Homo sapiens: one gene and its partners. The protein of the gene in region 3 purifies or fractionates together with the protein of the main gene of each other region. This does not show direct contact. Each region holds a gene or a part of one and is shown on either strand. Other genes may lie near its edges.

Region 1 (3,500 bases), on a different chromosome or scaffold from region 3:
ACCTGAGGCTCTGCAGAAATGACAAGTGCCACATTGTTGTATCTGTCCCTTCCTTCAAGATCTCCAAAATTTACAGCTACATCAAACAATAGGGTCTAAGAATTCAGACCCTCCCCTTCCCCGCCCCAGAACTGGTCAGACTGGCACCAGAATGTAGTAATCAGTATTGAGACAACTGCCCAGTGACCATGCTCCCCAAGCTGTCATCCCCAGGGCAGGACTGGGAGGTGCACTGCAACTTGGAGGAAGGGCTGCCCATTTGATACCCACAATGACCTCACTACTTTCTTTTCTCTCTCAACCTCTGGATTATATTCAAGACCTCACCACTTTCATTCCTGGCAGATAAAAATTTTCAGCCCTAAACTTCCATGATATTCTTGCAATCGCAGTGTGTTATCACCATGTTTTTAAAAACTAAAACTTTAAAGTACCACTTACGCTACAAGATCAGTCATGATTTATTGATGGAAACTTCAGTTCGGTGATTTCAGAGTCAGGGGAGCTGCTTCCACTCCTGTCACTATAGGTGTCCCTGTAGAATTCAGATGGTTTACGCATCATCTCCCACCAAAAACTCACTTTACGTCCCTGTTTTTGTAACCACGGTTCCTACAGGGACACTTGCCTGCACATGGCAGGAATCACAAAGACTGTTTGCTACATAATATATTTAACATGAAACTGCAGAAAGATTTCCTTCTTCTAGCTACAAAAGATATACATTCCATTTATACTTCAGTCACACACCCTACCACCAACTCTGAGTACTGGTTCTGGATAAAGGTGGCAATGGGACATAAACCTACCCATTGTGGCTTACTTCCCAGGAAAAACTAGTTCCCCTTAACATGGACCAGAGGGTCCTACGCCAAGTGTGATCTGGTCAGCACCACCAGAGCTCAGATGCTGCAGAAAGGGGGACCTGGCCAATATGCCAGGGAAACACCGTGAGAAAGCTCCGGGAAAGGAGAGGAAACTTTCACCCCAGGCGCCTGTGGCTTTTTTTTCTTATGACTGACTGTGACGTGTTGCTGTAATGAATCAGCGACCACCTAAAGGACTAGAGAAGACTAATGGATTACTGAAGCAAAGAGTGCGCCTACCTGGGTGAGAGCCTGCAGCCTTTCTGGAGGTAATGTGAGAGCCGCCCCACAGAGGCCAGGAGGAGGCCAAAGTATGGTGGGGAGGGCTTGATAGGCCTGGACAGGAACTCAGGGTGGTACTGAACCCCAACAAAAAAGGGATGATCTGAAATAGAGATTCAAAAGAAACAGCTTCATTGTGAAGGTTATGCACAAAGTGTAAAAGAACAAAATCTGCTTAAATGTTTGTTTCCATAGGCCCTAAAATAATTTGAAAATGACTTTCTCATTTGAATCTAGATAAAGGGAACCTCAAAGCATGAGTGATCTGATACCCTTTCTCAGCACGGTTTGTGCTGTCCCCTCCTGGCTGAAGGCCTCCTGTCCAGGGTCCCGCCCAAGACCCTGGCTCCCAGGATTTCTGTAGACTGAGTCTTGCGGTTCAGGAGAGGGCTGAAGTGGCTTTAGTACCAACTCCAAGCATTTTGGAGAAGGAGAAACTGCGGCCAGAAGTTAAATGGCTCCCCGAGGAAGGCCATGTACCAGAAAGAAGTTTCTAGAGTCCAGACCCCATGTTTATCAAGACCCCTTCCCTCATGAGACAGTGCTGCTTCCTAATTCTGTTAGGTCAGGAGCAACAAGATAACATTTTTATATTTTCCCATATGCCAAGAAAACTTTACTAAGTTTTCCATTAAATAAAACTGCCCGAATAATCACCTTCTAACTCCACAATTTCCATTCTCTCTCCTTCAACATCTTGGCCAACAAACTTCAAGCCTTGTTCTTCCAAACACTTTTTCCAGACTGGATTCACCTGTTGAGGCATGAAAAATAATTCTGCTGGTCTCTCAGCTCACTATCTTTCCAGAGTACCAGCAAGCTGGAATCCTCACCTCAAATCGGTGGCGGTGCCTCTCTTCCAAGTAGTCTGCGTCTCCATAGAGTTTCCCTGGCAAAACAAACGGGCTGTATGTAAAGAACTTTATCTCACAGGATGATGCGTTCACAAAGACATCCTCCTTCCTGCTTTACTTTTCATCATCCACACAGCCAGGTCTTTTGAGGGCTATTTCTATGAATCTGCTAAGGTCACCTGCTCTTAACAACACAGTTTAGACTAATTCTTGGGCTTTTGACTCTTTCTGACAACACTACAGAAAGCTGTAACAGAAACAAGACTCTCACCACCACCCTCAAACACATGATTGCAAAGTATGGGCACTTTGCTGCTAGAAAACTGCCTTGGAAAGCAAATCAGGATGTACGAAACGGCAAGGCCCTGGGAACGTGGCAGGATGGGAGGCATTTTAAGAGCTGCACAGATGACCTCTGATGATCATTCAGTTCCAATCATGGTCATCAAAGGTCATCAGCCCTCAGTGGCTGCATGTGAACAAGCTGGACATTTGCGAACGGGCTGCTCTACTGACTCATTTCACAGTTGCCTCGAGATCCCCAAATCCACAGAACATCAGAGTTGGTAAGAGAAAGATCCGATACTCAAGTGACTCCAGCTATGCTGCTACAGAACGCCCAGACAGACACAAGGGTGCCTCTGCTAATACAGTAAAGGCAGAATTTTCCCAGTAGACAAGAAGGAAATCTGTGTAATAGTCATTTTCTTAACTATTTTCCTCCGAAAACTACCCTAAACCTTCAGCATCTATTAGTACTTTATTAGAACAGAATCTACTTAGGCTGAATCATATGAAATTGCCATCTTTGTGTGACAAAAATTGCCAAACATCAGCAATTGATATGGCTGGTCTTAATAGGAAAGTAACCGATAAGGATGAATGTAACCTCACTGCCTCATTCTGTTGAGGCGCCCATGCCTAGGAGTCTGACTGCACTGCCAGTGTCCTTTCTAAGACCCACACTGCTTCTATGGCTATCACAGTGCATCCTAAAAGGGTATGAATAAGAGAGGAAAGAATGAACTTCAAAAGCAAGAACGAAACCAAAAAAAGCCAGCCTGCTCCTCGAAGCCACAGCATCACCCTAAGACACGCGTCCTGGGCACGCAGAGCCAAAGGCTGGGCCAGCGTGAGGCAGCTCTTACTCATGACTGAGTTCTTGGTCTGGAACAGGGTTCTCCTCTTGCCCAGCCTCATGGTTCCGCCCATCTGCCCTGGGTTGTGTTCTGGCATGTCTACGACCTGGAGATGTTCAGAAAACAGACACCAACTACAGAACTCTGCTTCCGCTAGAGAGAAACCTCCCTCGCTGAGTGGGTGGCAAAGGCTTGTAAGTAAGCTCTAATTCTCCAGGCTTTCCTTATGAGACATTTTGTCACAGAAGAAAATGCCTCCCAGTTGGCATTTGTAACCTCGGTTGGGTGGAGGCTCCGTCCTTCAGCCTGTCCTCCTGATCTGCAGACAGGACCACAGCAGCCCCTCCTCAGGCTAGTCC
Region 2 (3,500 bases), on a different chromosome or scaffold from region 3:
CTGGAGTGCAGTGGTGCAATATCGGCTCACTGCAAGCTCCGCCTCCCAGGCTCACACCATTCTCCTGCCTCAGCCTCGTGAGTAGCTGGGACTACAGGCGCCCGCCACCACGCCCGGCTAATTTTTTTTTGTATTTTTTGGTAGAGACGGGGTTTCACTGTGTTAGCCAGGATGGTCTCGATCTCCTGACCTCGTGATCCGCCCGCCTGGGCCTCCCAAAGTGCTGGGATTACCAACTTGGAGAAAGTCATGAGTTTTTGAAGAGTCTGGAGAAGTTCTAGAAACCCCTGAACTGACGAGCTTCTTCTCAGTGAAAAGACGGTCCATAAACAGTGGATTTAGAAACGCGACCCGACCTTACTGTGAGTGGTTCTGATAGTCCTTGTCACGGCAGATCCAAACGCAGCAGGAAAGGGAGTGGGACTCCCGGTGTGCTGCTGCCGCACGAAGTGCTCTGTGCTGTCGGGGTTTTCCTTTCATAGACTGTGCTTCTTTCATTCTCAGCATAGAGTGAGGACACTACAGCCACATCCCTGAAGTTGAGCATGAAGTATGTTCTCAGGACCAGCTTAGTGGAGCCTTAGCTTGGGCAGCGGAGGCAAGCGACCCCGCCAGGCCTGGTGTCTGCGGTTCAATCACAAAGGGCAGGTGTCCGCAGGCTTCCTCTCCCGCCCTTCCTGCAGGGCCCTGGCTGTCTGTCCCAGTCAATTCTTCCAACTTTATTTTCTGCCACCTGGAGGTCAACTTACAGCCCCACCACTGTTCTCTTCCCTGTCTCCCTTTCGTCCCCCCTTTGTTGACTCTCTTGGGCCTGATACCAGCCGAGAACGGCCCTTCTCTCTGCTCAGCACTCACTCATTGCGGCCGGTCTTCCTCCACAGCCCCGCCGGCTCCAGGCCTGCTCATCCCTGGAGATCCTTTCCCTACCTTCGGTGTTCTCCATTCCAGGTGGTTGGATGTGCAGGACAAGCAAGGGCATTTCTCAATTTACTCAAGAGCAAAAATGACAGGGCTCACGCTAGGTTGTTAAAGCTTTTTCACTTAAACACGGCCAGTGAGTTGGTTTGAACGACAGTCACCCAAGAAAACAACAACAACAAATCTCCCTTGGTAAGATATGTATTATAGGATTAAATACACGCAATTTGCGTGAGCATATTCTTATATAAACACACTATTTTCAGTAGTTTCAAAATGAGAGGTTTCAAACTTCTACCCAAATAACCGATTCACACAGATGCAGGCGGTGGGAACCTGACCAGCTAGCACGTTGCTCTGAGATGGCTGAGTGCACAGGGACTCCCTGTAGACAACCTACATCACCCCATGATGTGGTCAAAGTTGTCCAACTATTAAAAGAAAGTTATCCTGGAACCATCCAGAGAGATGGGAAATGCCGAGGAAAGTTAAATAGAGATGTCTTTTTAGTTTGGCCAGAGTACAGCAGGACGGGTGGCGAGGAAACTGGCCCAGTATGAGCAGAGGGGATCCAGGAATCTTCAGCCTTATGGGGACTGCTGTGGCAGAGGTTTTACCACCTGCTCCCTCAGGCCAGTCTCTGAAGTCCCCAAGAGAGGGCTCTCAAGGTGTGAGCGTGGGGTAAGGCCCTCAGGTACTCGCTGGGCATTCTCCAGCTTCACACCCCAGCAGGCCCCTGAGAGGTGCAAGATTTCCACGTGGGAGCCTGTGGGCGTCAGACCGTGCCATCCTCCATGCACTCCATGAATGTCTACTGGGCACCAGGAAGGCTAAACTGGAAGAGACTCCTTGGCTGATTTACGTAGCCCTCGCCTACAGCGGAGGGCCTGCTGTAAGAAAGGAGAGGCCACACAGCCTGCACTATTTGCATATTCTTTTTATCTTGATAATGTGATTCCTTTAGCTTATCCTCCTGGCAGAGCTCTGCACATGCAAAGTGGGGAAAACCACACTTGTCCAGTCTTGCCTCAGGCTGCTGAAAGCTCAAGTACACCAAAGGCTCATGAAAGGAACGACATCATTTACATCATCTGCATAGTCACTTTCAACAAGAGTTGTCGAAGTCATCTGAACAACGTTTATTCACTTTCTGTAGAGAGGCTTCGTCAGATACTCTGCTCAGAAAGTGTAGAATTCACGCCGAGTGAAATGCAGGCTCTTCGCTCTTGAGTTAGAGCAGGGTTTCTCCCCCTGGACACTAGGGACATTCTGGGCTGGACTGTTGTTTGGTGTGGGGGCTGTCCTGTGGGGGCTACATGCAGGGTGCTAAGCAGGGCTGTCCCGTGGGCTATGGAGGGTGCCGAGCAGTACCCCAGCCTCTGCTAACGGCCATCTCCTCATGTGTGACAACCAAGTTGTCTCCAGACATTGTTCCCCAGGGGTGAGGTCGGGGGTGAAAACTGCCCAGTTGAAAGCAGCAGCTCAAGAGGCACCAGTACATCTCCAGGGGAAGCGTAAAGTAAAGATCTGCCAAGGCTTGTAGAGTAGGGAGAAACACGGCTGACCAGAGGGCAGGCATTCGTCCTGTGATGACTTCAAGCCTCATGGCCCTTTCTGGGAATGGTGAACTCTGACACCTCTACCCCTGAGCAGCATTCAGCTCCAGGGCTCCACTTCCAAAATGTCTTTGGCCAAAATGTGTCTGAACATCAAGGTGGTTTAGTATTTGCCCCACATCTGCACCGACACCACACATCTACATAGATCATACAGTGGGAGGGGTCAGAACCTCAGATCTCAACCTCCTTTGGATAAATAACTCAAAATGAGATTCACGGGATGTTCCAGAGGATGAGGATTCTTTCCTGCCGGGACAGGGTTAACTGGCAGGACACAGTCTCGTTTACAGTAATCACTACGATGAACTGATTTTACTGATAATGACTCTACCATGGGAGTCTGGTGGTGTCAGGTGCGTGCAGTACGGTGTAAAGGACAAAGCAAATGACTTGGATAAGCCACCCACGTCCCCACCCCAGCAAACTGCCTGCTGTGGGAAGTGCTGTCAGCAGGCAACAGAGAGCTCAGGGCCTCCCCCATGGACCGCTCTTCCCAGGGCCGCCAACCCCACGGCCAACTGCAGTGGGGCACCGGGAACCGCCGTGAGGCCACGTGGTTCCAGAGCTCCCTGTCAGTCAGCTCTGCCCAATCCTGCTTCCTTTCTGCCCTTCCATGGACGCTGGCACCTAATCTACCAGACCCTGCTTCCCAAATCTATCTTAGCTTCCAGAGAAACCACCTTGTGACGAGGGGAGTGGACAGACCGAGGGTGAAGAGAGAGGTTTAGAAACTGCACGGCTCCCCAGCTGGCAATGAGGGACCACCCCCCAACAGGCCAGGTGGAGAAGCCACAGTACCTGGCACAGGCAGCCGTCCACGTGCTAACACTCTCACAGGTGAGGGGCAGGGACATGGGTGCAAGCAGAGGGGCAGCCGGGAGCAAGAGGCAGAGAGGGCTGAGACTTGGCCTTAGCCCCTGGACTTGTCAGCAAGAGTGGACAAGCTCCACCCAGGTTAATCAG
Region 3 (3,500 bases):
AACATGGTGAAACCCCGCCTCTACTAAAAATACAAAAATTAGCCAGGCATGGTGGCACATGCCTGTAATCCCAACTACTCAGGAGGCTGAGGCAGAAGAATCTCTTAAACCCAGGAGGTGGAGGTTGAAGTAAGCCAAGATCATGCCACTGCACTCCAGCCTGGGCAACAGAGTGAGACTCCGTCTTAAATAAATAAATAAATAAATAAGACAGAATCATGGCCGGGTGCAGTGGCTCACGCCTGTAATCCCAATACTTTGGGAGGCTGAGGCGGGCGGATCACCTGAGGTCAGGAGTTCGAGACCAGCCTGGCCAACATGGTGAAACCCCGTCTCTACAAAAATACAAAAATTAGCTGGGCACGATAGTAGTGGGTAATCCCTGCTACTCAGGAGGCTGAGGTGGGAGAATCACTTGAACCTGGGAGGCAGAGGTTGCAGTAAGCCGAGGTCACGTTATTGTACTCCGGCCTGGACGACAGAGCAAGACTCTGTCTCAAACACACACACACACACACACACACACACACACAATCAGTGTATATACACACACAAAAGGACACAAGACTGAAAGGATATGCAACAGAAAATTAATAGTAAATGCATCTCAGAATTATATTTATTTTTTTCTACCTCTTCTTTGCCTGTGCATACTTTAAGCCAACATGGTGGAACCTTGTCTCTACTAAAAATACAAAAATTAGCTGGGAGCGGTGGCAGGCGCCAGTACCCCAGCTATTCAGGAGGCTGAGGCAGGAGAATCGCTTGAACCCAGGAGGCGGAGGTTGTAGTGAGCCAAGATCGTGCCATTGCACTCCAGCCTCGGCAACAAGAGCGAAACTCCATCTTAAGAAAAAAAGAAGGGTGTGATAGTTAAATTTATGCATCAACTTGGCTAGGCAATGGTGTCCAGATAGTTGGTCAAACATTATTCTAGATGTTTCTGTGGAGGTTATTTTTTAGATGAGATTAGCCTTGTAAACTGGTGAAAATTGGGTGAAGGAGATTACCCTGCATAGTGTGGTGGGTCTCATTTAATCAGCTGGAGGCCTCAATAGGAAAAAGACTCACCTCCCCTGAGCAAGAAGAAATTCTGCCAGCAGAACTTCTGAGGCAGCAGAATGCAACATAAACTCTTCTCTGGGTCTCCAGTCTGCCGGCTTACCATGCAGATTTTGGACTTGCCAGCCTTCAGTCACGTGGGCCAATTTCTTAAAATCTCTCTCTTGCTTTGGTGGGTGTGTGTATACCTGAAGAGATGCCTGAATTGACAGCCCTCAGAGATAACCTATCGTGGACTTCTAGCCTCCAAAACTATGAGACAATAAAATTCTATTGTTTGAGCCACCCAGCCTGTATGACACTTTGTTATAATAGCCCTAGCAAACTAATACACAGATGCAACAGTAAATTAATAGTGGATATCTCTCAGTTAGAATTACACTTGTTTCTTTTTCACTTCTACTTTCTTGCGCACATTAAAAAAATTTTTTTGACTATGAACAAAGACTTTTTTGGTAATGAGGAAAAAAAATCACTAAAAACAAATGACATAAGCATTCCTATACTATGTAATTCTGTATCTGCTTCCTATACTATAGAGAGTCAATTCTTTCTCTTAGTTATTAAAAGAACTTCTATTGACTATCCATAACTTATTGCCCAAGTGCTCATCTGACTGTTCACACTGCAAAAGGACACTCACCTTCATAATCTCTTATTGAATCTTCTGTCCTGACCCCAGCCATATTATACTGGCTGCTCACAGACTGAGAAAGCATTCCTTCTAATCTCTCCAGTGTGGCTTGGCCTTCTGCTGTTAGATGGGATAATCCTTCTTCATAGGTGTAAAATGTAGGGATGTCCCCCTGTCCTTGTTCTAAACAAACAGAAAACTTTAAAGTTTAAATACAACAATTAGAAAAAACAAAATGGAATCAATAATATATCTGCCGCCAGCCTGGCCAACATGGTGAAACCCTATCTCTACTAAAAATACAAAAATTAGCCAGGCGTGGTGGCACGCGCCTGTTGTCCCAGCTACTCAGGAGGCTGAGGCAGGAGAATCGCTTGAACCACAGAGGTGGAGGTTGCAGTGAACCGAGATCACGCCATTGTACTCCAGCCTGGGCAACCGAGCAAGACCTTGTCTTGGAAAAAAAAAAAAAAAAAAGAATCTGCTGAAGATAATATACTGTCCAAATAGGCTTCCAGGAAGATACTTTTGAACATTTATTTATACACACATATAGGCTACTGCTGAAGACAGAAATACAAAGAAGATGTACCTACTCTCTAGGGTTATTAAAAGAGATAACAAGCCAGTAAACAGCAATTCCCAAAGAATCCCAAGTCCAGGGACTAGAAAAAAAAAGTGTGTTCCTAAGGTCAGAGAGTCCTACATTATCCTGAGGTGGGAATTTTACAAGTGAGCACAAATTAATTTGGTATTAATTTGTAAAATGAAGATGTTTTCTGATTAAAAAACATGCTCCTTTCTTAAAAAAAATCAGGGCCAGGTGCAGTGGCTGACGTTTGTAATCCCAGCACTTTGAGAGGCCGAGCTGGGAGGACTGCTTGAGCCCAGGAGTTCAAGATCAGCCTGGACAACATAGTAAGACTTCATCTCTCCAAAAAAATGTTTTTTTTAATTAGCCGGGCACGTGGTGTGCACCTGTAGTCTCAGCTAATCGGGAGACTGGGGTGGGACAGCTTTGGTCCAGTAGTTCAAGGCTGCAGTGGGTGGAGAATGGTACCACTGTATTCCAGCCTGGGCAACAGAGTTAGACCCTGTTTAAAAAAAAAAAAAAAATTAGAAATTCTGGAACATACAAAAAGGATGAAAAATTTTAAATCACTCAAAAATCTCAGAAAGATAAGGATATATTTGGATATATTTAGGTATGTGATGGCGGATCCCAGAAATGTGTTTATCTCAGGCCAGGAAGTGGGTACATATGAAGGAAAGGGCTTTGGATACCCAGATTGGTGTACATAAGACCAGTAGGGAAAAGAAAAGAGAACAGCAGGTACTTCAAGCTATAAAGACTCTTATCACGCTAGTGACTGCATTCTGGTCTGGGGGAGGCAATCGGAAAGGGCTCTTAAATAAATGAAGTATGGTTCTGAGAAAAAGAAATGACCTTGGCAGTGAGCTGTTTGAAGGAACATGTTAAATAAAGATGCAGGCCAGGCCCGGTGGCTCATGCCTGTAACCCAGCATTCTGGGAGGCCAAGGCCAGAGGATTGCTTGGGCCCAGGAGTTGGAGACCAGCTTGGGCAATATGGCAAAGCCCAGTCTTTATAAAAAATACACAAAAATTAGCCAGGCATGGTGGCGCAAGCCTGTAGTCCCAGGTACTCAAGAGGCTGAGCTGGGAGAATCATTTGAGTCCAGCAGGCAGAGGTTGCAGTGAGCAGAAATCACACCACTGCACACCAGCCTGGGCATCAGAGTGAGACCCTGTTGCAAAATAATAATAGTAATAATAAAACAATAT
Region 4 (3,500 bases), on a different chromosome or scaffold from region 3:
GTGCTTCCCACCCAACCAGCAGCTTCAGAATCAGAGGAACCTGCTATAATAATGGTACAAATTGAGATCCCAGGTCCCACCTTTGTAAAATCCTATTTCATAGGATTCAAAAGGATCCCAGAATCTGCATTAGTAAAAAATCTCATGTGGCCGGGTGCGGTGGCTCACACCTGTAATCTCAGCACTTTGGCTCAGGCGGGCAGATCACCTGAGGTCAGGATTTTGAGACCAGCCTGGCCAAAAAGCTGTACGTTTCTTTAGGAAAGCCTGGGCCAGGCGTAGTGGTTCACACCTGTAATCCCAGCACTTTGGGAGGCCAAGGTGGGAGGATCACGAGGTCAGGAGTTCGAGACCAGCCTGGCCAAATGGTGAAACCCATCTCTACTAAAGACACAAAAAAATTAGACAAGCATGGTGACGCACACCTGTAATCCCAGCTACTTCAGGGGCTGAAGCAGGAGGATTGCTTGAACCATGGAGGTTAAGGCTGCAGTGAGCCAAGACTGCACCACTGTACTCTAGCCTGGGGGACAAAGTGAGACCATTTCTGAAAAACCAAAACAAAACAAAACAAAACTGCAGTTTCTAACTGGCTTTGCAAGTTGATTCAGTCAATAAAGGCACTAATTAATGGTGGGAGTCATTATTTGCCTTTAGCGTTAATACATGATAATCAGATTAAGATCCATTAGTTTAAGGTCTTGTAGTCTGCTATCAATTTTTGCAAAGGAAATATGTATACACAAAGACTTAGAAAAACCTCTCAGCTGGGCGCAGTGGCTCACGCCTGTAATCCCAGCACTTTGGGAGGCCAAGGCAGGCAGATCACGAGGTCAGGAAATTGAGACCACCCTGTCCAACATGGTGAAACCCCGTCTCTACTAAATATACAAAAATTAGCTGAGCATGGTGGTGCACGCCTGTAGTCCCAGCTACTCGGGAGGCTGAGGCAGGAGAATCACTTGAACCCGGGAGGCAGAGGCTGCAGTGAGCCAAGATCTGCACCACTGCACTCCAGCCTGGGTGACAGCGTGAGACTCCGTCTCAAAAAATATATATATATATTTTTTTTTTTTGAAAAAGGCTACTGTTAGGTCTTTTGTTTTTTATTAATTTATTTATTTTTGTGACAGGTTCTCACTCTGTTGCCCAGGCTAGAGGGTAGTGGCATGATCATGGCTCATTGCAGCCTTAACCTCCTGGACACAGGTGATCCTCCTACCTCAGCCTCCTGAGTAGCTGGGACCACAGGCTGGCACCACTACACTGGACTAATTTTTCTTACTTTTTTATAGATATGGGGTCTTCCTATGTTGCCTACCCTGGTCTGAACTCCTAGGCTCAAGCAGCCCTCCTGCCTTGGCCTCCCAAAGTGCTGGGATTACAGGTGTGAGCCACTGCACCCGGCCTATTTATTTATTTTTGAGACAAGATACTGCCATGTCACCCAGGTTGTAGTGCAGTTGTGCAATTGTAGCTCACTGCAGTCTTGACCTCCTGGGGTCAAGTGATCTTCCTGTCTCAGCCTCCCCAGTAGCTGGGACTACTGGGCCCGCACCATGCCTATTTTTTAAAAATTCTTTGTAGAGACAGGTTCTCACTATGTTGCCGAGGGTGGTCTTGAATTCTTGGGCTAAAACAATCCTAGCACCTCGGCCTCCCAAAGTGCTGACATTACAGGTGTGAGCCACCACACCTGGTGAGGTCTTTTGACTATAATATATAAAATATCTGTGCTAGATGTTGTGGCTCATGCCTGTAATCCTAGCTCTTTGGGAGGCCAAGGCAGGAGGATTACTTGAGTCCAGGAGTTCAAGACCATCCTGGGCAACAGAGTGCAGCTCTGTTTTCTAAAAAAAACTGTTTAGTTAGCCAGGTTTCAGGGCATGTGCCTGTAGTCCTAGCTTCACAGGAGGCTGACGTGGGAGGATCACTTCAGCCAGGAGGTTCGAGGCTGCAGTGAGCCATGATCAAGTGACTACACTTCAACTTGGGTGACAGAGCAAGACCCAGGCTCTTTAAAAAACAAACAAACAAACGAAACTGGAACGGGTATGGTGGCTCACACCTGTAATGCCAGCACTTTGGGAGGCTGAGGCAGGAGGATCATGAGGTCAGCAGATAGAGGCCATCCTGGCCAACATGGTGAAACCCCGTCTCCACTAAAAATACAAAAATTAGGCCGAGCACAGTGGCTCATAACTGTAATCCCAGCACTTTGGGAGGCAGAGGCGGGCAGATCACGAGGTCAGGAGATTGAGACCATCCTAGCTAATATGGTGAAACGCTGTCTCTACTAAAAAAAAAAAAAAAATACAAAAAATTAGCCGGGTGTGGTGGCGGGCACCTATTGTCCCAGCTACTCGGGAGGCTGAGGCAAGAGAATGGCATGAACCCAGGAGGCGGAGCTTGCAGCGAGCCAAGATCGCACCACTGCACTCCAGCATGGGTGACAGAGTGAGACTCCGTCTCAAAAAAACAAAAACAAAAACAAAACAAAACAAACAAACAAAATACAAAATCAGCCAGGCATGGTGGCATGTGCTACAGGTGCCTGTAACCCCAGCTACTCGGGAAGCTGAGGCAGGAGAATCGCTTGAACCTGGGAGGTGGAGGTTGCAGTGAGCTGAGATCGCACCACTGCACTCCAGCCTGGCAACACAGCAAGACTCCGTCTCAAAAACAAAAAACACCAAACTGGCCAGGCACAGTGGCTCACGCCTGTAATCCCGGCACTTTAGTAGGCCGAGGTGGGCGGATCACCTGAGCTCGGGAGTTCGAGACCAGCCTGGGCAACGTGGCGAAACCCCGTCTCTACTAAATATACAAAAATTAGCTAGACATAGTGGCGCATGCCTGTAGTCCCAGTTGCTCAGGAGGCTGAGGCAGAATTGCTTGAACCCAGGAGATGGAGGTTGCAGTGAGCCAAGATCACGCCACTGCACTCCAGCCTGGGCAATAGAGAAAGACTATCTCAAAAACAAAAAACAAAAGCAAACTGAAGATCTAATTATACTGTAATATGTAATTTAAGCAAACTTCATTAAATACTTAAGACTTTTCGGCCAGGCGCGGTGGCTCACGCCTGTAATCCCAGCACTTTGGGAGGCCGACGCGGGCGGATCACCTGAGGTCAGGAGTTTGAGACCAGCCTGACCAATGTGATGAAACCCTGTCTCTACTAAAAATACAAAAATTAGCCGGGTGTGGTGGCATGCACCTGTAATCCCAGTTGCTCAGGAGGCTGAGGCAGGAGAATTGCTTGAATCTGGGAGGCAGAGGTTGCAATGAGCCATTGCACTCTAGCCTGGGCAACAAAAGTGAAACTCCATCAAAAAAAAAAAAAAAAAGAGTTTTCAACAGAATATGCAAGCATCAACTACTGCTTTGGAATAGTTAAGCAAAACTAGATCCCAGCATTGAAACGTTTTCTCACCTTCTTGAAAAATATCCTGTTCTCCAACTTGATACCATATCCCTACTCTCTGTATTATTAGCAG
Region 5 (3,500 bases), on a different chromosome or scaffold from region 3:
TGGGAAGATGCCCAGTGGGGAGTGGAAGGAGAGTTTCCCCACCTGACAGCCAGCGCAGCCCGAGAGGAAGGGACCCCCGTGAGTGGAGATTTGCTGGGAAAGGCTGAGGAAAGTCCCACAGAGGAACTGAAGAAGCACCCTCCTCACAGAGGACAGGGCGTGCATCCCGACCCCCAGGCCTGCGCCCTTCCTCGGGCCATCCCTCTGAATGTCAGGAAGCCAGTCAAACCAGACAGAGGCAACTTCCCACCCAAAGAGAGGGGAGTGGTTCCCACCCAGAAAGGAGGGGCTGAGCTGAAGGACCGCGAGGCTTCAGCATTTCTTCACATGGAGGTGATCATTCCCCTGCCAGCCTCCCCTGGTCATTCTGAGGACCTGGCAGCTCTGGAGGAAGCTTCTCCAAGCCCAACCTCCCATGGGTCAGGGGAGCCTTCGGAGCTCAGGGAGCCCTTTCTTAGACATGTCCATCTTTCGAAAGCCAGCCCAGAGCCCAAGGACCAAGTAGGGTTTGTGGTGTCCCCTGCCACAGGAGGTGAGCGCAGGCCTCCTCCCATCACCAGCAGAAAGCCCAGAGTAGTCCCTGAAGAAGCTGAGGGGCGCATACCTCTGGGGTTTGGGTTCCCTTCAGGGAAGCGAAGGGAGATGACCTCTTTCCAGGCTGGGGACCAAGAGGGCTCCCTAGAAGATATTAGCAAGACCTCAGTGGCCAACAAAATTCGGATATTTGAGACCCACGGAGCTGAAACTCGCCGAATGAGTGAGGGTGAAGCAAGGTCCCTTCCAAATGACGTATCTTCAGAGGCACCCGTGGGACAAGCAGAGCAGCAGCGGAGTACGCTCTCAGACCTGGGCTTCGCCCAACTCCAGCCCCCAGGGGACTTTGCCAGCCCCAAAGCCACACATTCCACAGTGATACCTCTGGCTACCAGACACTTCAGGGAGGACACTTCTGCATCCTACCAGGAAGCACACACGGAACTAGAGCCCGTGTCCCCCAATTCAGGCTGTGAAACCACGCTGGCAGAAGCTACTGGAACTGGGGTAACTGGCCGCGTGAGCCCCCGCCCCCACCGCTGCTCCCCGCCCATGGGGGCTGGCCGCATGCTCTGTAGTTTTTAGAAGCATGTTTCAGTGGCCCCTCGTCATTTCTGCAATCAGAGGCTGCTTATCCATCCCTGTGAGTTTTTTCCCTAAACGGGCCTGGGTGTAGCTCAGGCTGAATGATGGGCTTCTCTGCTTGGCCCATGTTAGCTTGGCCACAAAGACCCTCAGCTTTTGGTGTGACCTGGTGCCCAGAGGGTCACACAACCCCCATGGAGAAGGTGGCGCCACCACCAGCAAATGACACACCTGCTTTGCCTTGCCGCTCATACCCGCTGGGTTCCTGCCTACCTTGCTTGGCTTGTCCAGCGATCTTTCTTCATCCTTTCCCATCCCTGGTTCTCCCGCCTTGGGAAAGTTGACAGTCCAGAGGTTTCCATCCTTCACTTCTGGTTCCCTCTCAGTCCCAGTGCCAAGTTTCTTTCTGCCTCCTTAAGACTAACTGTCTTCTCTAATCCAGAACAAATCCGGAGATGCGGTCAGGGAAGAGAAGCGCTCCACCAACTTAGCAGCCAACACCCCTGGGAAGGGGGGGCGCCTGAGATTTGCCAGCCCCTCGGGCCCTCAGGTCTCTGCAGCCCCTCTGTGCCCTGATGACCCAGTCACCTTCACCCGGCCAGGATGCATCGCCGCCTTAGGTTCCCACCTGCTGTGGCAGCACCTCTCGTGCTGCTCAACTCTGGCTTGTCTGGAATGTCTCCCTCACACCTCTCAACCTTCCAGAAACTGGCTAAATGGAGGCTCGCTTAGCAAGTGAATGTCTAAGCCCACTGAATCCCTAGAACCAGAAGCCAAGTTCTTTACAAATCTTTCATGGGTATTAGGTTGGTCTTTAAAAAGAATGTTATGAACCAGCCAAAAATGTGTGTGTGGTGTTTAATCCCTGACAGGCCAGTTGAGAGGTATGTATGTCGGACAAGAGTTGCTGGTTCCCCGAGGCACTGCCTTGGCCCGCTGTTGTCAATTACACTGATGGGACCAGAGCCTCTACTCCCTGACTTGCCTGTGGTCCACTCATGGAGCCCAGGGTGGAGCTGGCGTAGCACTCAGCTCCCAAGAAGCTCGTGCCCAAAAGGCCTGACCCTGAATTGCTCTTCTCTCTAGTCGATGCTGACCCCTCCCCCGGAGACTCAGTGGAATTGACAAACATGTTGGCTTCCTCTTTTGTTCCTCAAAGTTCTTGGCTCCAACCTCTCTGCCTTCCCTTCCTGGGTCTCCCTGAATCCCTGGATCTCCCTCCTTAGTTTCTGTTTCTCAACGCCCACCTGCACGGATGGGCCTGGGGTCCGGGCTTCCATCCCTGCCTTTCGTGCAATGCTGCTTCCAATAAGCTCCCAGATCCAATACCCTTGGATGGAGCCTCCTGTCCAGGAGTCACTGGCAGGACGTTTGCTTTGTACTTGCTTTTGCCATCAGTGTGAGACCCTCAGAAAGGGGCATCTCCACTCTTGAGTCGTTTTTGTTTTTTTTATGCTTGTTATGATTTCAAGGAACCTTTCCTGGGGTGTTTTTCATTTCCTGGCCTGCTCTTCCATTCAGGATGTCGACACAGCCCCGAGATTTCTCCTGACATTCACCATCTTGATTTCTCTTTCTCTCTCTCTCCCCACCCCACATCCCCATTCTTTTGATTTTATCTGGCCATAGAGAGCAGGGCTGAGGGAGGGCTCCGAGGAGAAAGTCAAACCACCACGTCCCCGGGCCCCAGAGAGTGACACAGGCGATGAGGACCAGGACCAGGAGAGGGACACGGTGTTCCTGAAGGACAACCACCTGGCCATTGAGCGCAAGTGCTCCAGCATCACGGTCAGCTCTACGTCTAGCCTGGAGGCTGAGGTGGACTTCACGGTCATTGGTGACTACCATGGCAGCGCCTTCGAAGACTTCTCCCGCAGCCTGCCTGAGCTCGACCGGGACAAAAGCGACTCGGACACTGAGGGCCTGCTGTTCTCCCGGGATCTCAACAAGGGGGCCCCCAGCCAGGATGATGAGTCTGGGGGCATTGAGGACAGCCCGGATCGAGGGGCCTGCTCCACCCCGGATATGCCCCAGTTTGAGGTACAGTGGAGCTTCCTCAAGAGCCAGGCCCGCTGGGCACCGCATGCTCAGAGGGCCCTGGGCCACCCGTGAGAAGACCGAGCACCCAGCCTGCAGCCTGAAGCTCTGTCTCGTGTTGCATGACTGCCCCTCCGCAGAACAGCATGGTTCTGTGCTCGCATGTTTGCCATCTCGGTTTACCCCTAACACGCGCTCCTTGGTATTTTAACCCTGTGACCCCATCGCTTGCTGAAGTCGAGCGATGACAGGTAGTCTGGTCTTTCTTGACCCCATGCCCCCCCACCTGTGTTGCATGGCACCTGCAGAGAGCATGCGTCTGTGGACTCTTGGGGGCTCCTGCA
Region 6 (2,364 bases), on a different chromosome or scaffold from region 3:
TATAACTTCACACTGAAGGCGAGAGGTTTTGAAGTAGTCCCTCTCTTTTTCCCGCTGCTGTCTTCCTTTCGCTACTGTCTTTTTTCCTCCTTTCCCCTGTCTTGTTCATTTTGTTATTAGGAAGTGAGGAGTCCCAAGGAGCAATACATCGAAGCATGTCTCAGCCAGAGGCTAGCAGCAGCAGCTATGACAGTGAGTGGGAACAAAATTAAGGAGTATTTATAAATATACAGCAATATTCTTAAAAAACAATCCCTTAAATTTTAAAACTGGCAATTTTAGTTTCAGAAAGATCCTGCATTGTTCTAGTGAGATTGACACTCATTAAGTCTAAGGCAGAGTCTCAGCTGCGCATCAGGAAGACTCATCCCTTTCTTGACTGCCTGGACATCATTTGTTACCTGAACTTTGCTTAATGAGCATCAAGCGTTTTTGTTTTGATAGATAAATGCCTTTAAATTCTAGTATAATTATGAATTTTTTTTTAACCTAAGTTTTTAGTTTAAGGTCTTCTACTGATGCTTTTTCCCATGAGAAAATATATCAGTATTTTTGTTATTTTATTAATGACAAAAGAGTATAGTAAAGTCATAAATAATTTAAGGAGAACAATTCAGTTTTTTTGACCTAACTTTTTCAGAAGATAAAGAATAGTCAGATTCACCCTTATTCATATAAACTCAAAATTGCCGTTCTTAAAATGCTGTTTATTTCCCCCATTACAGTTCACTTTTTTCCCCTAAAGTACAATGCGAGTTAAGGTATTTTACTATCAAAATAATCATAAGTGAGAGAAATATTATCTGATGGTAAAATATTATTGCTTCCAGCAAAAAGAAAAAGCCAAGAGTTCATGTAAATGTATATTTTTAAATTTATCAGTTTAAAAGTTACTTGAAGGAAAAGACACATTATTACATTTGTTTTTTTAATTTTTAAGATATATAGTACAATTCAGTGAACACTGTGTTTTAGGGCTTTAAGATTTTGTGTCATAAACGTGTTTCAAGAATGGTTACCTCTAACAGCAGCTTTAGAAATGTCAGTTTCTTCATTAACAATTTTATTTTCAAACACAATTTATGATTTACAGTATGGTAAGAGATTTTTCGCACTGTGTGATCTTTCAGAATGCTGTGCCTAGCAAAATGGGAGCAACTTTCCTTTAATATCTATTTAGACCATTTTAAAAATGTGTATAATTTTCTAGATACACCTAAACTCATTTTGAATAGTTGGGGGTCTATTGTGTAAGAACACATTCTGAAAGCTTTCAAAATGTGTATTGTGTAGGTTTTCTCAAATAAATAGAGGAGGTGATGGGATGGTTTTCAAGAAGAACAGAGGCCTCTAATCCTTTTATTTTTATGCAAGGCATAATTTTTACCAGTTGAGAAAATTTGGTTACTGGCTGCAAGTAATTTTTCCCCTCACAAAATGAGGAGCCTTTAAAAATCATGCATATTTTGGCATTTCAAAATCATGCCAGTATTTCAGAATTGTGCTAAAAATTAGCTAATATAGCCATGATATTTATGGCTGGTGTACTTTCCCCCCTCCTGTTCATAAAATGGAGGCTACTTTTGTTGGTATTATTTTTAAGAACCTTGGATTTTGGACCATTCCTGAGGAATCTTTGGAGAAAGCATGACTAGTCAAAAAGTAGATATTTTTAAGGGAACCCTACAAAGAAATTTCCTACTTTTTTTTTCCTACTGCATTATAAAATCATAGAAAAGCATCCCAAACTTGTATGTTATTTTCCAAATATCAAATTATATACATTAGTCTTCTGATTGGACCCTTTGCCAGTAGTGTATATTATGAAAATGGTTATATATTTAATTAAAGAGATAAGGTAGTTTTTTTTGTAACAATCAGAATTGATTATTAGGGAAAATATTGAATTGATTTATGCAGCAAAGTCAACAAGGTGCGTAGGACTGATTATATAATAAATTCCAGGCAGTAGTAGCCCTTTTAGTTGCAGTGAGAAACTTTGGATTGAAGGAGATGAGCAGCAGTGATATTTAATTTCAGAGTAAAATGGCAAATTAAGACATTAATGAGAATAATGCTATTTGAATGTAACTTTATAGTTGTTAATTTAGTGTTCTTTGTAGTGTGGTTAAAGATTTAAAATGTGTTGAAAGGGAGATATAGTATTGATTATTGACCTTGATTTTGTAATACCCTTTATGCCAGTCTCACTATCGCAGCATTTTCAGTTTTCTGTGCAGAATTAATTTCAAATTTCTTGAAATAGGCCGGGCGCAGTGGCTCATGCTTGTAATGCCAGCAGTTTGGGAGGCTGAGGCGGGTGGATCATTTGAGGTCAGGAGTTCGACACCAGCCTGACCAACA
Region 7 (3,500 bases), on a different chromosome or scaffold from region 3:
TGGCTAGGGGTCCTCCTGACACCTGATGGGATGAAATGCCGTCACCTGTCACCCGGAGCTGACACTCTACTGCAGGAAACACAACCCTCGCAGTGGCTAAGCTGACGGCAGCAACGTGGGTCCTGACTCTGGCCTGGCATACCGGCTGCCTTCCGGGCCCATGGCTTTTGCAGGGGACCTGCTGCCGGGGAAGGATCCTAACTTCATGGTGGTGACAGGCTGACATAAACCAACCCAATAAGGAGCGCCAGCCCCTGAGTGAGCCCCACTCCCTCCGGCAGCAACTGAGAAACTCGGAAGCTGGGGGAGAGCCTTTGGCTTCAGGAGGGTTCACATTGAGGCTGAACTCCCCTGTGCAGCTTGGCCTTGGGAGGGGAGTGGCCCAGGGCCTGAAAGGATGTCTTTACTAAGGCACCGTCCTGCCCACATCAGCTGTTCAGGTAACATCTGTCCCATCCATCCCTCATTCCCACACGGACACCACACGCCTGCGTGATGGCCACTTACAATGCAGTCAGGAGAGGTGTGACGTGCCCCCATCCTCGGCTCACCACAGCACTGCCAGCTGAGCCCCACGGGCCACAGCAGCGGGAAGCAGCCAGGGAGGGCCGGCCGGGTGCTCTCAGGTCTCAGCAAGCCACGTGGCTCTGAGGCCAGGACACTGGGGAAGCCAGGCTCCCACGCAGGCAGAGCTACTGCTGAGGCCATAGGACAGCAGAGGCCTCGTCCCCAGTGGCTGGGAGGAAAGAGGGTCAGGGCCTTTGCACTGCAGGTCCCAGCCCAGGCTTGGGGGTGCTCCCTGGGGAATGGCTGTGGGGATGGGCACTAGGAGCCAGGCCGAGCTGCTTCCATTTGCAGTCTCGCCCCTCTGGGGAGGGAAAGGACAGGCAGAAGCTCTGTGCTGTTATTTTGGCGGCCCCTAAAGAGCCAGTCCTCCCAAAGAACCGGAACTGGGCTCGCACTTAGTTAACCCACGGAACGCAGGAAAGTGGCAGGAAGCATGTTCCAGGTTGATGCCTGAAGAAGGGCTGGCAGCTGCTGCTTTTGTACTGAGGAGCCCTGAGCCCTGTGAAAGAAGGGGAGGGAGAGGCCCCGAGACGACACACGGAGAAGCCCACCCACCCCGGCAGCCCAGCCCTGAGCCCACGCCAGCTGAGCACAGCCACGCGAGCGACCAGCAGCAAGAGCTGCAGCACTGTCCACTGTTCACTGTCCACTGTCTGGCGGAGCCAGCCCAGAGCGCAGAGCCGCTGCTGCTTTAAGCCTCGTGGTTTCGGAGTCAAGCAGCCACAATGACCAGCACTACCTCCCCCATCTCTTTCCCTCTTCGTGTACTGCGTTACCCTCCCAGTCTTCCTACAGAGGAGCAAAGAGCCTTCAAGACCCAACGGCACGCAGCCACAGAGAGACAGGGCTGGAGCCCGTGCCTTCTGTTTTTTTTCCTTTCCTCCCCCTTCTTTCTCTCCTTTTTTCTTGAGACGAAGTTTCACTCTTATTGCCCAGACTGGAGTGCAACAGCACCATCTTGGCTCACCGAAACCTCCGCCTCCCAGGTTCAAGCAATTCTCCTGCCTCAGCTTCCCGAGTAGCTGGGATTACAGGCATGCGCCACCACGCCCGGCTAATTTTGTATTTTTAGTAGAGACGGGGTTTCTCCATGTTGGTCAGGCTGGTCTTCAACTCCCAACCTCAGGTGATCCGCCCGCCTCAGCCTCCCAAAGTGCTGGGATAATAGGCATGAGCCACCGCACCCGGCCTCTCTCTCCTTTCTTTAAGACAGGGTCTAGCTCTGTTGCCCAGGCTGGAGTGCAGTGGTGTGATCATGGCTCACTGCAGCCTCAACCTCCCAGGTTTAAGCGTTCACCCCACCTCAGCCTCCTGAGTAGCTGGGACTACAGGTGCACACCACCACACCCAGCTAATTTTTGTATTTTTTATAGAGACAGGTTTTCACCATGTTGCCCAGGCTGGTCTCAAACTCCTGGGCTCAAGTGATCCGCCCGCCTCAGCCTCCTGAAGGGCTGGGATGCCAGGCATGAACCACTGTGCCCAGCCTGCCTTCTGTTTCTGAGCTCAGTTTTCTGGTTTTCTACACTCCCCATCTCCCCACAGCACCAGGAAGGACATCAAATGCATTTGCCTTTGTGTGCGAAATTCCAATGTGCGTAGCTACATTGCTGGGCATAGTTCTGGTAGCCATTCCTCAGAAAGGTACCCAAAAGGACATCTGAGTGCAACAAGGGATTCCAATAGCTCTTGCATGACCCTCCAAGAAACAGGTCTCCTGATAGAGAGCCACTGGACGCCTAAAATTTACGAACAGAATGGCCCAGGGGAAAGGGAACTTGGCCACCTCTTTTGGGATTTAGAAAACAAGACACACTCTTTGACTTGAATGACATTGTTTTGGGCACCATAAAGAGGAATGCTTTACCAGGCAGGTGCTACAGAGAGCTGGACGCACACTTTTTTTTTTTTTTGAGACGCAGTCTCACTTTCTCACCCAGGCTGGAGTGCAGTGGTGCAATCTCGGTTCACTGCAACCTCTGCCTCCCGGGTTCAAGCGATTCTCCTGCCTCGGCCTCCCGAGTAGCTGGGACTACAGGCATGCACCACCACACCCAGCTAATTTTTGTATTTTTAGTAGAAACGGGGTTTCACCATGTTGGCCAGGATGGTCTCGATCTCTTGACCTCGTGATTCGCCCGCCTTGGCCTCCTAAAGTGCTGGGATAACAAGCGTGGGCCTGGCCCACAACACTTTTAAGAACTTGAATACTGAAAGACATCTATGAATTTGAAGAGAAATATTGCAACTGACTGGACACTTACATGATGTAAGGCACAATGTTAAGATACATGCCTAGTACATCAACACTCTGGAAAACCAAAAGTATCTGTCAGGTGGGAAGGTGGGAGTAGACCATGCTGTATCCAACATCACACCTTAGTCCTAGAGGGATGCCTACAGCCCTGAGGACCAAGGAAAATGCCAGTGAACTCGCCTCTTCCAGGAAATGCCAATGAAACCACCTTTGCAAAAACTGTAACAGTGAGAAAATTATGGTGGTGAAAGAGATCTGATCTAACCAATCCCCATCTTTGGCCTTCCAACTACCTTTTTTTTTTTTTAAATGGAGTTTTGCTCTTGTTGCCCAGGCTGGAGTGCAATGGTATCATCTTGGCTCATTGCAACCTCCGCCTCCCGGGTTTAAGCGATTCTCCTGCCTTGGCTTCCTGAGTAGCTAGGATTACAGGCATGTGCCACCATGCCCAGCTAGAGATGGGTTTCTCCATGTTGGTCAGGCTGGTTTAGAACTCCCGACCTCAGGTGATCCGCCTGCCTCAGCCTCCCAAACTGCTGGGATTACAGGCAGGAGCCACCGCGCCTGGCCCTTCAAACTACCTTTAATTATTCCTGGGCTTGGGCCAAGCTAACTTTGGGAGACATTTGTAATTTAAATGATAATACTCCTTCCGTAAAACTCAACTGCCTTTGTA

The links.
Region 1: the proteins of CLNS1A (region 3) and CTPS1 fractionate together in Homo sapiens (co-fractionation; one large-scale study listed by BioGRID). This does not show direct contact.
Region 2: the proteins of CLNS1A (region 3) and CDYL purify together in Homo sapiens (affinity purification with mass spectrometry; one large-scale study listed by BioGRID and IntAct). This does not show direct contact.
Region 4: the proteins of CLNS1A (region 3) and SEC24A fractionate together in Homo sapiens (co-fractionation; one large-scale study listed by BioGRID). This does not show direct contact.
Region 5: the proteins of CLNS1A (region 3) and EPB41L1 purify together in Homo sapiens (affinity purification with mass spectrometry; 2 studies listed by BioGRID and IntAct, with this or other methods). This does not show direct contact.
Region 6: the proteins of CLNS1A (region 3) and VRK1 purify together in Homo sapiens (affinity purification with mass spectrometry; one large-scale study listed by BioGRID and IntAct). This does not show direct contact.
Region 7: the proteins of CLNS1A (region 3) and LRRC47 purify together in Homo sapiens (affinity purification with mass spectrometry; one large-scale study listed by BioGRID and IntAct). This does not show direct contact.

What each region holds. Positions count from the first base shown.
Region 1 is NC_000001.11:41,007,196-41,010,695, reverse strand, and holds part of CTPS1 (CTP synthase 1), read right to left. Parts: intron 3,248-3,500; coding exon 3,151-3,247; intron 2,038-3,150; coding exon 1,982-2,037; exon of another isoform or gene 1,903-1,981; coding exon 1,806-1,902; exon of another isoform or gene 1,801-1,805; intron 1,252-1,800; coding exon 1,107-1,251; intron 536-1,106; coding exon 451-535; 3' UTR 442-450; exon of another isoform or gene 438-441; intron 1-437. UniProt on the Homo sapiens protein: This enzyme is involved in the de novo synthesis of CTP, a precursor of DNA, RNA and phospholipids. Catalyzes the ATP-dependent amination of UTP to CTP with either L-glutamine or ammonia as a source of nitrogen.
Region 2 is NC_000006.12:4,947,404-4,950,903, reverse strand, and holds part of CDYL (chromodomain Y-like protein), read right to left. Parts: intron 1-3,500.
Region 3 is NC_000011.10:77,620,795-77,624,294, forward strand, and holds part of CLNS1A (methylosome subunit pICln), read right to left. Parts: intron 1,880-3,500; coding exon 1,706-1,879; intron 1-1,705. UniProt on the Homo sapiens protein: Involved in both the assembly of spliceosomal snRNPs and the methylation of Sm proteins.
Region 4 is NC_000005.10:134,651,785-134,655,284, reverse strand, and holds part of SEC24A (protein transport protein Sec24A), read right to left. Parts: intron 1-3,500. UniProt on the Homo sapiens protein: Component of the coat protein complex II (COPII) which promotes the formation of transport vesicles from the endoplasmic reticulum (ER).
Region 5 is NC_000020.11:36,206,740-36,210,239, forward strand, and holds part of EPB41L1 (band 4.1-like protein 1), read left to right. Parts: coding exon of another isoform or gene 1-1,041; intron 1,042-1,561; coding exon of another isoform or gene 1,562-1,669; intron 1,670-2,748; coding exon 2,749-3,159; intron 3,160-3,500. UniProt on the Homo sapiens protein: May function to confer stability and plasticity to neuronal membrane via multiple interactions, including the spectrin-actin-based cytoskeleton, integral membrane channels and membrane-associated guanylate kinases.
Region 6 is NC_000014.9:96,877,382-96,879,745, forward strand, and holds part of VRK1 (serine/threonine-protein kinase VRK1), read left to right. Parts: intron 1-120; coding exon of another isoform or gene 121-192; intron 193-2,364. UniProt on the Homo sapiens protein: Serine/threonine kinase involved in the regulation of key cellular processes including the cell cycle, nuclear condensation, transcription regulation, and DNA damage response.
Region 7 is NC_000001.11:3,789,999-3,793,498, forward strand, and holds part of LRRC47 (leucine-rich repeat-containing protein 47), read right to left. Parts: intron 1-3,500.